Linked DNA regions of Homo sapiens. The protein of the gene in region 2 purifies or fractionates together with the protein of the main gene of each other region. This does not show direct contact. Each region holds a gene or a part of one and is shown on either strand. Other genes may lie near its edges.

Region 1 (3,385 bases), on a different chromosome or scaffold from region 2:
TTCCCTAAGTGCAGAAACTCATAACTGGGCATGTCCCTTGAGGGACCCTGGGAACTCTGATTGTGGGTTGTTGAAAACACATTGACTCCTATGGGGCATGGGCTTCTGAATCAAGGTGGCCCTCAGGAGTACTGATGTAAGGACTGCTCCTGTGGAAGGGAACTGCTGACATGGCCCTGCTGGCATGCTGAGCATCTCTCTCCATCCTTCTAAGAAACTCTGATGCCAGGTATGATCTGTCCAGGTCTTGCGAGTCTTAATGTCTAGTTGAGCCCAAAAAAAAACCCATGGTGGATACAGCTCTTCCTCCCCTCAGCCCTCTCCTACCTACTTCTAGGCTTTTATCCCATGTAGGTGGAACTGTGATATTAGTCCAGCTAGTCAAGATGAAATCCAACCAGCTTGCTCACTTTGCCATCCTGGGCGCTTTCCCATTGCCACGTCTCCCTAGCTAACAATCAAGATTAAAGGGCACCTGGGTTTTGACGACCAGCTCCCCTTCCTCCCATCCAATAAGAAGACTTGACCAAGATGCTTAGAATCATTTAATGAATGTTCCAAACACACCCTTCACTGGGCTACAGGTAAATTTCACTGGGATGGAAGCAGATGAACCACCCAATCAAACAGTACATGATTACTCGGTTTCCAGAAATCTGGATACCAGAAAAACTCAGTAGGAAACATCAGGATCACCTAGCCAGAGGTTCCTTGTGATTCTTTGCTTCCTCCTCTCCTCTTCCTCCTCCCTGCTAAGGAACTTCTCCAGGGGTACAAATGTTCAGGATGGGAGAAGGGGAAGTCAGGTCCCTTATCTCTAGGGCAAAGAGGAGTGCTGTGACACCACACCCCAGAGACAACAAGATGATGTGGAGGCACAGGCCTGCTCAATAAATAGTTCCCAGAAGTCTCCACAGTGGGATTAATGGGCCCAGGGACGCTGAACTGCAGGAGCCACCTTCCCGAGGCCAGGCTGTGGCCTGCTCGCTACGTGTTGCACACCAGCACATCTGCAAAGGGTCCCAGGAGGATCTTGTTGAAGATGCAGCGGACCCACACCAGGTAGGTGGTGAAGGGCTTGATGTTCTCAGTGAAGGTGTGGTTCTGCAGAGCCAGGATGTAAGGCACGTAGGTGTTCTCCCCCTGCTCCTGCAGCCACACCTCGTACTTCACCTCCCTCACCTTCAGGTATTTAAGGTTCCATGGGATCTGCCAGGAGACAGTGAGGCGGGCCTCGGAGGCGCCATGCACTGACGCCTGGCACCGTGCCTCCCGCACCTTGCCTGGATATAGGCCGACTGTCCACTTCTGCTTCCGTGGTCCTGGCCGGCCCTTCACCACGCGCCGTATGGTTTGAATGAGGGACGGGATGTCCACCTTGGTGTCCTGGTAGATTCGGAAGAGCCACTCGGGGTTCCGGCAACAGAGATGCCGTGGGACCTCACGGCTTTGCAGGATACGGGCTTGCTCAGCCCGGTCCAGATGGGTGATGCCCCCCTGATCCCAGGGCCGCTCAGGGTGTGTGACTGTGTTCTCTGGCATCATGTTCCGCCAGGCTACATACTGGAGGTCCATGCCAGGCAGCATGGCCAGCGTCTTATAGGGAGTGTAGTGGTCGGGATTGACAGCATATGGGAAGAGCTCTACCACAGTTGCCCCACGGGGCAGGAAGAGGGTGGTGACCAGCTGGGCCCCATGCATGCTGACCAGCATGGAGGCATTGCTGACCAGCCGCACGACATCAGCAAAGGTGTGGTCCTCCAGGGACACTGTCACTGTCTTCATCTGGAACTCCTGGGCCAGTGCCAGCAGCAGCTCTGCCTCATTCAGAATGAGTCTGTTCTGGGTTCGGCTAAAGACCAGAATGTACTCCTCGCCTAGGGGGACTCCTGTGTGGCTCACGTTCAGCTTTTCTGTCATGAACCGTGCAAACTGCCGGATCTCATTGCCTGAGACGAGGATGTTGGCCTTCGGGCCCTGGGGCTGCACAAAGCCATACTGGTACCAGGTAGTGATCTTGGAGAGGCCCACAAAAGCATGGGAGAAGCACAGCAGCCGGCCCAGGGTCTTCAGCTGTGCCCGCAGGAGAGGCTGCTTGGGGCTGAGCAGCTTGTAGAGGTCGAAGTGTGCACCCTCGCCCCAGCCCTCCATGAAGAAGAGCCGTGCCTCGTGGGCCAGGCCGGGAAACTGCCGCAGGGTGTAGAAGAGTGGCAGCAGGTCGTCATGAAAGACGTGCATGAGGTTGTCGGGGTTGAAGCGGTTGGCGATGAGGGCCACGTCTGGCACGAACACCGGCTTGGGCATGAAGCGCAGGGCAGCAGCAGGCAGCTCCACGAAGTTGAAGTACTGAGTGTTGTGGTCCTCCACGGTGGATAGGTCGAGCAGGGCTGGCTGGAAGCGCCGGGAGCCCAGGTTGGGCAGCATGACAGAGGTGTTGCCATGGAAGAAGATGAACTCCTCAGCCTCGTTGGAGTAGCAGAGCCACTTGAAGCGGCAGATGCGGTCTGTGTGCGTGCGGCCCGTGCACACCATGTGTGTGCCGCCCTCCATCAGGATCTGCAGTGCCTTCGGGTAGTCGATCCTCAGTGCTGGGGCTGGCTCTGTGGCCTGTCGGCTGAGGGCCAGCTCCTCCTCCAGTGTGGCTGCATGCTCACGCAGCCGCACATGCTTCCACAGGACCGCTGCCAGCACCGACACCAGGAGGGCGTTGAACACCGCCGAGAGGTGCATCCTAATGCCACTGTGGGGCCCTAATGAGATGACGGCCACTGGGAAGCACCACAGGCCAGGCAGGCTTCACCCATCCCTATGGGCATCCTGAGAACTGGTGAAAGCCTGCAGGAGGAGAGAAGGAAAAGAAAAAGGAATTGGCAGTCTTCCTGGCATCATTACAAGCTCCTGCTATGTGCCAGGCACGGTAGCTAGGCTCTGTGTGCCCGCTACAGCACTGGATCCTTGCAGCCATTGTGCACATTGGTAGGCGTGGTAGATTAGACCATTGTTTAAAATATTCTCTCCCTCCCCATCGCCTCCATGTTGGAAAGTGCATCCCCACACCCGACTTTGGGCTTAGCCATTTAACTTGCTTTGGCCAGTGAGATGTCAGCAGACAGAACATAATCAAAGGTTTGGAAAGTGTTTGGGCTGGCCTTGCCCTCTTTATGACACTGCCATAAGAAGAATGTATTCAGGCTAACTTGCTGGCCCCAAGAGGAGCGAGATACGCATGAAGCAGAACTGCTCCGGCCATGCCCTGTTCTAGTTCAGCTGATCCCTCATGACTGAGTGGGCCCAGCCAAGAGCAGCAGTGCGATCAGCCAAACGCAGCCAAGATCAGCCAACACATAGACATCAGGGCTGAGCAACAGCTGATTAAACATCCCTG
Region 2 (7,039 bases):
CTGGCTCATGTTTGTATTTTTTATAGAGACGGGGTTTCACCACGTTGCCCAGGCTGGTCTCAAACACCCAGGCTCAAGCGATCTGCCCAACTCGGCCTCCCGAACTGCTAGGATTACAGGTGTGAGCCACTGCATCCAACCTGAATCTTTTTTTTTCTCAAGATCCGTCTGGACTCATGGATAAAGGACAATTTTTAGGACTTTAGAGTTTAGTATGAATCAAATGAGAAGTCCCCCAGCGGATTCTGAACCGAGGAGTGCCACGGTCTCAGTAAAATGGAAAAACCTGTGGGCAGCCAGGGCAGAAGCTGGAGGGCGACCAGAGCAGTCAGAGGCTGCAGCCACAACACAGGTGGAGCGCGTGTGGGCTGGGGCACAACGGGGGTGGGGGGCAGATTGTGAATCTATTTCAAGGTTGCCTGATGCTGGAGTGGGGAGAGGGAGGGAAAGGAGGAGAGAACAGTACCAGAGAAGATGCCAAAGACTGCTCAGCGTAGAGAACAAGGGGGCCAGGAACCGAGAGGGAGACAGGAGGAGAAGCAGCCTCAGGGAGCAGATCGGGAGGTCAGTTTTGGACAGGGTAAGATGGGAACAGCTACGGGCTATCCAAGTAAAGATTGTGAGTGGGCAGCAGATATGTGGGAGACTCCAGCCGGCAGATAGAAATTTGAGAGTTGTCTAAATATGAAAGACGGTATTTAAAACCACAGAACTGAATGAGATCACCAAGGAAGAGAGCAGGCAGAAGAAAAAAAAAATCCAAGAGCAGAACCCCAAGATTTGAAGGGTCCAAACGGGAGGCCCTGACAGGGGAGATGTCGGCCACTGAGGGAGGAAAGGGAACCACAGCATAGTGGTGTGATAAGAAACAGTGAGTAAATAAAGATTTTTCTACAGCTGAAGCCTAACATTAGAACTTGGAGTTCTATATAATATAAATACTCACTAATCCAGCTGGGCGCGGTGGCTCACGCCTGTAATCCCAGCACTTCGGGAGGCCGAGGCAGGCGGATCACGAGGTCAAGAGACCGAGACCATCCTGGCCAACATGGTGAAACCCTGTCTCTACTAAAAATACAAAAAGTAGCTGGGTGCGGTGGTGTGCGCCTGTAGTCCCAGCTACTTGGGAGGCAGAGGCAGGAGAATCGCGTGAACAAGGGAGACGGAGGTTGCACTGAGCTGAGATCGCACCACTGCACTCCAGCCTAGGTGACAGAGCAAGACTCTGTCTCAAAAACAAAAAAAAAAGTACTTGCTGATGCGCCACGCTGCTTCCCCCTCCATCCCCCCACCAGAAGGCTCTGGCACTGTTCCATCCCCTAAGACACACAGACCATGGCCAACACGTCAGACTGCTTTGGCTGTTCTCTCCCCATGCTGTCCCAGGTGCTCAGTCCCACCACAGCCCCCACCACCACCCACTCATCCCCAACTGGATTCCCAAACATGCAATTACCTTCCACATCCTACTCAGCAGTTCTCACGGGACACAATACAGCTGGGACGGACTTGTGGACCACATTCCTAACTGAAATCTTTGAAAAACCTGAATGTACTCTGCAAACTTGGCTAACAGAATGCTACTGTGAGTAGAATAAATTATTAAATGAAAAAATACACTTTTTGGAAGACATTGTTAACCGTGCAGTAATGTAACCAAGAACCACGAATTCAGGTTTCACTATAAAAACCACCCTGATCAAAACAATGGCTGTGGCTCTCATGCAAAACAAACAGTAAAGCTGAAGCGGGGAGAGACTCCAACACCATTTCATCTAAAAAGGACCTTATCGCCTAGACTCCTTTGCTTATGGAAATTAAACTCCAAAGACCATCTGAGCCAAGGGCTATACTTTGATATTTAGAAGGTGATCACACTACTTAAACTCACTGCAATTTGGGATTTCTAAAATGCATTTTCCGAAGCCAAAACAAAGAGTGTTTACTTAGTCTAGCCTTGAAGGAGAAGGGCTCCCAGTCTAAAGCTTAAATATCTTTAGCATAGATCTCTGAAAATCTATAAATACGGCAGAAAAATAACTTTTGCAGTAAAAATCAGATATTAATATCTTCATATTTCTTCATTAGGGAGACCTTCATGTAAAATGCTTCCATCAATTACTGTGACTGCACATTCTTCACAAAACAGAACACAGCCCCTGTGCTGAAAACCTAACTGCATATATTCAAGTGTTTAGATGACCTCAAGCTCAAGTCTTCGAAGGGTTTCACACGCCACAGAGACAGGACATTAGGTGAGACACAGCATCACACAATGCACCAATTCTGTTAAACGCCGCATATTTATTACTGAGCGGTCACAATTCTTACAAGCACAAGTAGTCATTCTAGCCTTTATGGAACAGGACATTATTAAACTTTTCATTTCACATGTTATGATAAAAACACAAAATTATTAAGTTGAGAACTCTGTGTTCTCCCTCACTGTGCTCTTCTCCACTCTCATTTTCTATCAACATAGTGAAAGCGTCAGTAGAATTTAACTCATGATTAAAATTTGGAATTTCGAGTTCAGTTCAGTGTCACATTTTTAAAGTATTTTTAAGAGATCTCTAAATTGCAAGCATCTTTCTTCCCCCGAGACAGGGTCTTGCTCTATCTCCCAGGCTGGAGAGCAGTGGCACCATCATAGCTCACTGCAGCACCAACCTTCCAGGCTCAAGTGATCCTCCCGCCTCCGCCTCCGGGGTACCTGGGCGTACCACCATGCCCAGCTAATTTTTTGTATTTTTGTAGAGATGGGGTTTCACCATGTTGCCCAGGCTGGTCTCGAACTCCTGAGCTCAACTGATCGACCTGCCTGGACCTCCCAAAATGTTGGGATTACAGTTGTGAGCCACTGGGCCTGGCCGGCAAACACATTTTCAAAGCAGGATCATGAAGTTGTCAAGAGATTATGAATTGTAAACGAGTTTTTTTGTTTGTTTGTTTGTTTTGGAGACAGTCTTGTTCTGTCACCTAGACTGGAGCACAGCGGTGCAATCGTGGCTCACTGCAACCTCTGCCTTCTGGGTTCAAGCGATTCTCATGCCTCAGCCTCCTGAGTAGCTAGGAATACAGGCATGCACCACCATGACCAGCTAACTTTTGTATTTTAGTAGAGACGGCCAGGCTAATCTCGAATTCCTGGCTGCAAGTCATCCACCCACCTCAGCCTCCCAAAGTGCTGGGATTACAGGCATGAGCCACCGCACCCAGCGTAAATGGCTTTTTAAAAATACTGTATATTAAAAAGAATGTTGAATGATTTCTAAAATTTCAGACATTCCAAATAAAATTTACAACAGGAAAAAAAAAACTCTCTATTTTTCTAGTTCAATTATCATAGCCATGTCGGTACTTTTAAAAGCTTTCATCCTTACACTGAAATACTAATGAGTAGATCCTGTTTATTTTCTGGGTGTACACTAATTCTTTTCAACCCATCTTCATATGATTTTCAGCATGAACGGAGGAAGCTGTGACCCTAGAAATTGAGCAGCAGCCTTAGGCTTGGTATATGTCATTTAATCACTTCTGCTAACTCCATTTATATGTTGTTATCTTTGACTGGGGCTGCAATAATCTGGTAACTCTAGCAAGACATACTTTAAATATTGCCTTCACATGATCAACCACCGGTTCCAATTTAACCCTGAGAATGGTCTTTACTGACAATGACAGTGTGGAACTACAATCTGGCTTTTTCAGAAAACTTCACCATGTACATGATTTAATCAATCCAAAATAGATTCCTGAAGTGTTCCTGCCCTTAAGAAAGATAAACAGATGTCCTATTTTTCAAACAGCCTCTATATAAAACCTAGTTATCTACATGAACCTATAAAACATGTCTGTTGGCATTACGAAGATGACGGGTTCTAGTTGTTCTGTGCTCCTGGGAACGACAAGACAGGACAGGTAGGCAGCGGCTGTGTGTCTATTTCTGGCAGGGTGAGGCATTCCTGTGCTATTCTCTTCTTTCCCCTCTCTATATATTCCTTATCCTCCAACCACTTTCTCCTCATCCACATTCCAGGACAAACTTTGCCCAAGGAGAAGCTCAATGGACTGTTGACCTCTTGTGAATGGAGATCATCTCATCTAATGTATTTTTCTCCACAAACAGAAGTAATTTAAATGACATCTTGGCAGAGTAGCCAATAATCAACAATGGCCACTTCTTCCACTCCCAAGTTGGTAAGTAAGACTTTATTTTATACGTTGAATTGGGCTCCCTGTATAATTAGATTCGGTCAACCCTTCACTAAATGACAGACCAGGAAAGTGAATGTTCCATGTACAGCAAGAAAACGGAAATCTTCAGGGAGAAAAGTCCATCTTCCCTCCTCCTCTTAAAATGTTCTCTTCACCTGTTCTCTCTTCTTACACCTCAGAAGAGATGCCACCCACCCTAGCTGCAAATAAAGATACTCTGATACCACAAAATCCTGCCTCTTCTACAGCTCCTCCCACTCCTGACACCTTGTGCAGAATCCATACACACACACAGGTTCTTCTCCTACTTAAAAAATAAGCTTGGCCAGACACGGTGGCTCATGCCTGTAATCCCAGTACTTTGGGAGGCTGAGGTGGGCAGATCATGAGGTCAAGAGATTGAGACCATCCTGGCCAACATGGTGAAACCCCGTCTCTACTAAAAATACAAAAATTAGCCGGGCGTGGTGGCATGCACCTGTAGTCCCAGCTACTCAGGAGGCTGAAGCAGGAGAATCGCTTGAACCCGGGAGGCGGAGCTTGCAGTGAGCCGAGATTGCGCCACTGCACTCCAGCCTGGGCGACAGAGCCAGACTCCGTCTCAAAAAAATAAAATAAAATAAAATAAAATAAACTTCATTCAAACCTTTGCTTCTTTCAAACAAACACTCTTATTCTTCTCTTTTTTTATACTGGCAAAGATCGCAAGAAAAGGAGTTTCACAGCACCGCCCTGGCTTCCTTAGAACTCCCTCTCCGCCAAACGCTGCTCCACAGAGATCCTGCAGGTCCACCCTGGCAGAACAGCCGTTCCCGCATCACAAGCTAATGTCAAACCAATGACCTTTTCTCAGTGCTCATCCTCCTTGATTTCATGACACCTTTGACACCACTCACTCCCCTCCCCAACACTCCTGATCCTTCATTCGGTCACAGAGTCCCCCAAAACAAAGAGGCAATCCACAGGTATGAAAAATGAATGACAACATTCTCCTGATTCTCTTCCATACTCTTTTATACTCTACACTGACTCACCTACAACTCTGGCATTACAAACTTGTCTTCCAACTCTTCCTCCACATGCATTTATTACCACCCTTAAAGATCTCATCTACTCTGCCTCAAATCATGAAGGATCAGTGCACCAAATCTGCAATTTCAGCTCTAACCTCTCTCAAACACCTCGTAACATTCCTCCTAAAATACCATCAAACCTAAGTTATACGATTGGCCTTCACTATATAAGAGTTCTGCATCCATGGATCCAACCAACCTCAGGTTGAGAACGTCTTTAAAATAAACAATAAAACAGTAAAAATATAAATAGTACCCCATTTTATATCAGGGACTTGAGCATTCTCAGATTTGGGTATAAAATCCCAAACCTCCCTTAGAGACCAAGGGACAACTATATAGACTTTTCACCCTTTCGCCATTGCAAAATAACAGCTCTTCCAGTTATTTTCCAATCTCACCACTTCCCAAATCAACCAAGTTTGCAAACTAACAAATCAAACAAAAAGGAAGGGGTTGGGAGAACATCAAATGTGGAACCTAGCTCCAGCTTTGTCACTAATCAACTGTGTGAATTCAAGGAACTTGCTTAATCCTTTCGACTCTATGTATTCGAGAAATTGAAGGATGGACTAAAATCTTTACAGCCTCCTGGCTCTCAAACCTTCATTTCTCAAAAGTTATCCAAACTTGACATTTCTTTCTCAATTTCTCAAAATGGTTCCCTTTGCATTTCTGCTGCTACCACCTAGTTAGAATGGGTATTTTGTTCATGCAGAGTATTCCTACAGTCTTTTGGTATTCCTGCTTTCTGCCCCCAATCCCAGTCAACCTATTCAAACTTCTTTGTGATATTATTCTTTAGCTTGAAAATATTCAGTATTTCCCCTTAGCCTGCTAAGTATATGATTCTTAACCTTGCATTAAAGACCTTTGATAATCTAACCTCTAACTAATTTCCTAATTTCCCAACACTACTTCTTATTTCAAAACAAAAAGGCATACTTCCCAGACTTGCAACAAGTTCAGTAACCAAGCTGTCTTGAGCCAATAACACCACCTAGTGGTGAAGGCTCTAAAGTAATGTAACATCTTGACCTCTTCCCTTCCGAAAGATAATGCAAACATTACTATTTTCTTTGTTTCCTGCCCTCCACTCCTCACATACAGCTTATTTGTTTTCACCTTTCTCTTCAACGTTTCTTTCTTTTTCTCTCTCCTTAACCTCTGCCTCATAAAAACAATCCTCCCTTTTTTAATAAGATTATTTAAGTCATAGTCAAGATTCTCTATGTTCTACCTAGACAAAAAAAAGAAGCCAATCCTTTTCCTAAGATAACATGGTACGGTGAGGTCTTCAGAATTTCTCTCCACTCATCACACCACAAGCCACACTATGCTTTCTATAACTTGCTTTGCACACATCATTTCCTCTGCTTGAATTGTTCCCCTCTGATTCACACTTCCCTCAGAACTCACATTATCCTAAATCCACCTGCCCCAGATCCCCCAGCTCACTGAGGTGCTGCTATGGACCACCTTGACCTGAATGGATCTCTTATCACACTGGTCTATAAGAGACTGTGTACTTGTCCTCTCCCTTATCAGACTACGAGCTGCTTGAGGGCAGGAAACACGATTTGTTCAGCACTAGATGTTGTGTCTGGCCCAATGTTTGACACAGAGGAGGTCCACTATTGTTGGATTGGTAAATGGACAGATGAATAAAGCGTTAAGAGTGAGAAATGTGAGGCAGGACTGTGTTGGGGAGGGGATATAGAGAGGGATAACATAGGAAAATAAAACAT

The links.
Region 1: the proteins of FAT1 (region 2) and POMGNT2 purify together in Homo sapiens (affinity purification with mass spectrometry; 2 studies listed by BioGRID and IntAct, with this or other methods). This does not show direct contact.

The regions. Positions count from the first base shown.
Region 1 is NC_000003.12:43,078,702-43,082,086, forward strand, and holds the end of POMGNT2 (protein O-linked-mannose beta-1,4-N-acetylglucosaminyltransferase 2), read right to left. Parts: intron 2,836-3,385; 5' UTR 2,731-2,835; coding exon 988-2,730; 3' UTR 533-987; downstream 1-532. UniProt on the Homo sapiens protein: O-linked mannose beta-1,4-N-acetylglucosaminyltransferase that transfers UDP-N-acetyl-D-glucosamine to the 4-position of the mannose to generate N-acetyl-D-glucosamine-beta-1,4-O-D-mannosylprotein.
Region 2 is NC_000004.12:186,713,846-186,720,884, forward strand, and holds part of FAT1 (protocadherin Fat 1 isoform 1 precursor), read right to left. Parts: intron 1-7,039.